Regions from separate parts of the Homo sapiens genome. Here region 2 is linked to region 1. A link means that fine-mapping ties the variant in region 1 to the expression of a gene that starts in the linked region. Tissue or cell type: whole blood. Region 1 holds a variant in brackets; the other region holds the start of a gene. All regions are shown on one strand. Distances are from middle to middle.

Region 1 (2,765 bases):
ATGTCTAAGTACATACCCAAGAGAATTGAAGACATAGGTTGGCATAAAAACATGTTTACAAATGTTCATAGCAACATTATTCATAAAAGACAAAAAGTAGAAAAAACCCAAATGTCCATCAACTGAGGAATGGATACACAAAATGTGGTGTCTCCATACAATGGATATTATCCAGCCATTAAAATGGATGGATTAATGATATATGCTACAACACGGATGAACTGTGAAAACATGATGTTAAATAAAAGAAGCCAGTGACAAAAGACCAACGTATTGTGTGGTTCCACTAATATTAAATGTCCAGAATAGACAAATCTATAAAAACAGAAAGTAAACTAGTGGTTACCAAGAACTGGGGGAAGGGGAAATAGAGAGTGATTGCTAACAAGTACAGTTTCTTCTGGTGATGATAAACTGTTTTCCATTCAGATAATGGTGATGTTTACGTAACTTTGTGCATACACTAAAAAGCACTGGATCGCATACTTTAAAACAGTCAATGTGGCTGGGTGCGGTGGCTCACGCCTGTAATCCCAGCACTTTGGGAAGCTGAGGCAGGTGGGTTACAAGGTCAGGAGTTCAAGACCAGCCTGGCCAACATAGTGAAACCCCCATCTCTACTAAAAATAACAAAAATTAGCCAGGCATGGTGGTGCGCACCTGTAGTCCCAGCTACTCGGGAGGCTGAGGCAGAAGAATCGCTTGGACCCGGAAGGCAGAGGTTGCAGTGAGCCGAGATTGCACCACTGCACTCCAGCCTGGGTGACAGAGCGAGACTCCATCTCAAAATAAATAAATAAATAAATAAATAAATAAATAAATAAATAAATGAGTGAATGTTATGCTGTGTGGAATATACCTCAATTTTAAAATGTATGAGAAGAAAGGACAAAGAGAAGCACTTCTTTTTTTGGCAGTATGGCAGACTGCATCCATTACCACTCCCACTGAAAACTAAATGATGCCACTAAAATATTCAAAATATCTTTTAAGTATATTGATAAGCTTGCAAGAAACCAAGGAATAGTTAGAGGCCAAAATAAAAACGAGAAGAAGTAAACTGAATATTAAAGTTGGCTCTTACCTTGAAGTCATTTGCCTGGTCAAGTTACTGATTTTCTGTTTCCATGGCCTCATAGAATATGGAGGACAGGTGACAAAACCCACAGCCCAAACAACATGGATGATCTTATAGCAAACACCTCTATCTAAAGCTAGGATTTCCCAAAGGTATCCAATTTGAGCATAAGGGTAGACAATTAAGGTTAAGCCATAAGAAATTGCCAATATTTGATTATTTTTGACTTATGAAAAACAATTTTCCATGGTTCAACCTACACTTAGCCCTCAGTGATCC[C/G]CCTATCCAAACTCCCAGAAATTGCAAGGAAAATTGCACTTTAAAACTTGGAAATGAGTAAAGAGGAAAATAATTCCCTTGAGGAATAAATGTTCACTCAGAATTACATGTTAAAGAAAGACATTTTTGAAAAACAGGAACAAGTAAAGACATTTTCAAATGCCTAACAGATGGACCAACAGATTCTCACTAAAGAAATTTGTAATGAATGTTCATCCTACAGAAGAAAAGTGATTCCAGATGAAAGAGCCAAGATGAAAAGAAATGTCACTATTATATTAACCAAAATAAAGCTAGTAGAGCTACATTATTGTCCATCAAGATAGACTTTTAGACAGAAAGAAAAACAAAAGATAAGATGGTCGGCACATATTTTAAAGAGATGCATTCTCCAGGAAGAAATACTGACTAAATTCTTTCTAATAAAATATTTTTCAAATGTATTAGCAAAGGTTGACAGAAAACAAGAGAAATGAAAAAATATATCATAATGACAGTTTTCAATACACCTATCTCTGTAATTGACAGATCAAGACAAAAATCAGTAAAGACATAGAAAATCTGAATAAATCATAAGAAGCTTGATCTATTGAGGACTAACTGACATACACAGAATACTACAACCAAAACACCCAATCTTTTCAAACACAGAGAGAATCGTTATGTACTGGACTGGAAATAAAGTCTCAAAAACTTCCCAGGAATTAGTGTCAGACACACTAGCTCAGATCACAATGTGGTTAAGTTAGAAATAAATACCAAACACACAAAACCGCTTATGTATGGAAATAAACATACATCTAAATACTTCATGGGTTATAGAAGAAATCTTAATAGGACTTACAATATATTCGGCAATGAATAATAATGGACTACCTCATTTTATAATTTATGAAATGCAGCTAAAATAGTACTTAAAAGGAAATATATAACCTTAAATATACCAATGAGAGGACGGGAGAGATTGAAATCAATAGCTAAGTCTCTCTGCTGATCACTTTCAGGGCACCCCTGTAGATCTATTAGTTGCCCTTCTGTCCATTGTTCTGTGCTTCCAAAAGGCTTACCTGTAAAGACTGCATCATCCCAGCTACTTTCCTGCTGACTTCCACTTGGGTTTACTCAATGGGTGACACTCACAGGACATAAGAGATTAGAAAGAGGGATAAGGATTTTTATATATCTGCTCCCTCCTTACTTAAAGCCATGGTTTTAGCAGAGGCCCAAGGTCGTGGCTTTTTTGAGCAGCCCCTTTATCAAAGGTCTGGAAAGAGTCTACCTTCCCCCTCACAACTGAGTAATGAGGCTTACTACTGTTGCTAGTTCTGGGTAACTCATCTCTTATTGGTTTCTTTAACCCTGACACATTTATGTAAATACTCTCCTCCTTACACTCTCTTAAGTCTTC
Region 2 (2,765 bases), 59 kb after region 1:
CTGTCACTCAGGCTGGAGTGCAGTGGCACAATCTCGGCTCACTGCAACCTCCACCTCCTGGGTTCAAGTGACTCTCCTGCCTCGCCTCCCAGGTAGCTGGGACTATAGGCATGTGCCACCACGCCAGGCTAATTTTTTTTTTTTGTATTTTTAGTAGAGATGGGGTTTCACCATGCTGGCCAGGCTGGTCTTAACTCCTGACCTCAAGTGATCTGCCCACCTCGGCCTCCCAAAGTGCTGGGATTACAGACATGAGCCACCACGCCCAGCCTAAAATTTTTCAAAATAAACTTGCTGTTACTTTTCTTCTTTAATTTAAAAATACCTCTATAGGCTACATGAGAGTTTTTGAAAAAGTAGCCATGTTTGGCATGGAAATAGGCCCCAAATATGTCAACACCTGTATTTCCTTCCAGATTTCAGTCCTATAACTTTGGACTCCCAACAGATTAAGAATCACTGGTCTAAGGTTTCTAAAGTCAGGGTAGATCCCTTTCCCAAGTGACAGCCACAAATCCAACGCTGTATCATACCCTATCTAAAGAAAAGATAAAAGTAAACTGGCTTGGCACAGTGGCTCATGCCTGTAATCTCAGCACTTTGGGAGGCCAAGGCAGGCGGATCATGCGGTTAGGAGTTGGAGACCAGCCTAACCAACATGGTGAAACCCCGTCTCTACTAAAAATACAAAAATTCGCCGGGTGTGGTGGTGCACGCCTGTAATCCCAGCTACTCAGGAAGACTGAAGCAGGAGAATTGCTTGAACCTGGGAGGCGGAGTTTGCAGTGAGCTGAGATTGTGCCACTGTGCTCCAGCCTGGATGACAGAGCAAGACTCTGTCTCAAAAAAAAAAAAACAAAAAACAAAGATAAAAGTAAACTGAAAACAAGGATAGAAATGTCTGCTAACATGCTCTGTGACCTTGATCAACAGCTTTCCCCGCTCTTGGCCTTGGTGTCCTAACTTAAATGGGGAAACTGTGATCTCTCTCAGCTCAAAATTTACATGACATTATTTACATACCAAACCTGCCCTACGCTTCCTGGAAACTTTACTACTTATGAGTGTGGCTCCTCCTTCCCTTTCAATCCCTTAATTAAATAGCTTCCCCTCTACAGGCTTTTGAAGTGGTAGCAGTTCCTCCTAACTCCTGCCAGAAACAGCTCTCCTCAACATGAGAGCTGCACCCCTCCTCCTGGCCAGGGCAGCAAGCCTTAGCCTTGGCTTCTTGTTTCTGCTTTTTTTCTGGCTAGACCGAAGTGTACTAGCCAAGGAGTTGAAGTTTGTGACTTTGGTAAGTAGACTTTTCTCATTGCTTTTTCCTTAAAACTGTGTTCCCAGCAAAGTCTGATAAGGCAAGCGTCAGGTTTCATCTTATCCTTGGATTGTTTCCCAGAGACCAGGCTCTGTTCAAACTCAGAAAGTGAATAATCAAGTTTTGCAAGTTCCTCTTAATGAAGACCTAACGTGTCCTAACAAAAATATTTTTTGGTCGCTGTTTTTTTAGGGGTTGCTTTTTATTTGCTTTTGCTGATGTTATTTATTTACTTACTTTACAACTGCCTTGAATTCAGATTCCTTTTGACAGCCACACCAGTCCAGAAGAAACCACAGCTGGCGCTGTTTATGTACCAAGAGCTGGCTTCATTCAATTTAATCATTATTTGTTTGCAAGCCAAAAAACAGTCATTTTCTGAATTAAGTAGTCCTTTCACCTTTGTTTATCAGGAAATTAGAACAACTATTTGTAAACAACCTTGAAGCATAAAAGTGAATCTAAATTTGGAATTTTAGGATGATTTTCTGATATATAGATTTAGTTGACGATTAAAATCATTGGCACATGTGACCAGTTATGAAAAAAGGTGGGGGGTGGCTGATGCATAATATCAAGAAAAGAAAATATACTGTTGACATTGTTTGAAAATAGATGGAAAGAGGGTTTGCAAAGTGAAGGGGATTCATCATGTTACCTAAGAGTCTGATTTTCTGTTTCTGTATCTTTTTTTCCTTCTGTTTCACTCTTTCTCTGCCTCTAAGCCTCTAAGCTGCTTCTTGCCTTTCCTCTCTCGTTTTCTTTCTCTTCCCTACATTTTTTTATTTGAGATAGTGAAAGTGGGCTGATAAGTAGGTAAATTTTCTTTCTGTCAAGAATACTCAAAAATTATTTTTATAATTTGAAGGAAAGTCACTGTTTCCTTAAAAATTAAAGTTCAGGCTTTTTTTTTTTTCAGCATGGGATATTCAAAGCTCTTTACTTTCTACAGAAAATATGATACCCATGTGCTTATTTGAATCATTATTCTTATAGTCCAGTAAATCCTTACTAGGTCATGAGTCAACAATGACAGAAAACCCAGTGAAACAAACTATCAATTTATTTACAAATGATTCACCAGCTGTCAGACTTCTGTGCAGAAAAAAAATATATAATACTGTGTGCCTTCTTTAGGGAAACCCATGTGAGCTAGGCTTGTACTTCTATCAGTAGTTTTCTTGCTAACATGTGCATGAGGCAAGTTTAGGGACTGTAGAAATTGTACTGCATCTGCCGTGCTTGTAATACTGTAAACCTGTGACAAGCTGGTTGAGTGGCAGTCCTCTGAGAAATCCAAGTTACTCCAAGCTCACTGTACATGATGTATTCCCTCCTCCATGTTTTACCCAAGTTAGCCCAGGCTAACTTCCTTTGACTACCAAATTGTTGTGGGTTTCCTATATTCAGGGACTGCAAGTTAATTCTTTCCTGAGGAAAGCCAAAATAC

Evidence for each region. PIP is the estimated chance that this variant, and not a neighbour inherited with it, causes the effect.
Region 2: ACP3 starts here. The variant in region 1 is fine-mapped to the expression of ACP3 in whole blood (INTERVAL, PIP above 0.99).

Annotation. Positions count from the first base shown.
Region 1 is chr3:132,257,360-132,260,124 of GRCh38, forward strand. No RefSeq gene overlaps it. Among named protein-coding and RNA genes, the nearest start is that of TRC-GCA9-1, 27 kb to the left of the region's middle. The variant C/G (reference allele first, on the strand shown) is at 1,358.
Region 2 is chr3:132,316,283-132,319,047 of GRCh38, forward strand. ACP3 (acid phosphatase 3) reads left to right here and starts at 1,125. Exons shown (of 10, transcript NM_001099.5): 1 at 1,125-1,294. The coding sequence starts at 1,175.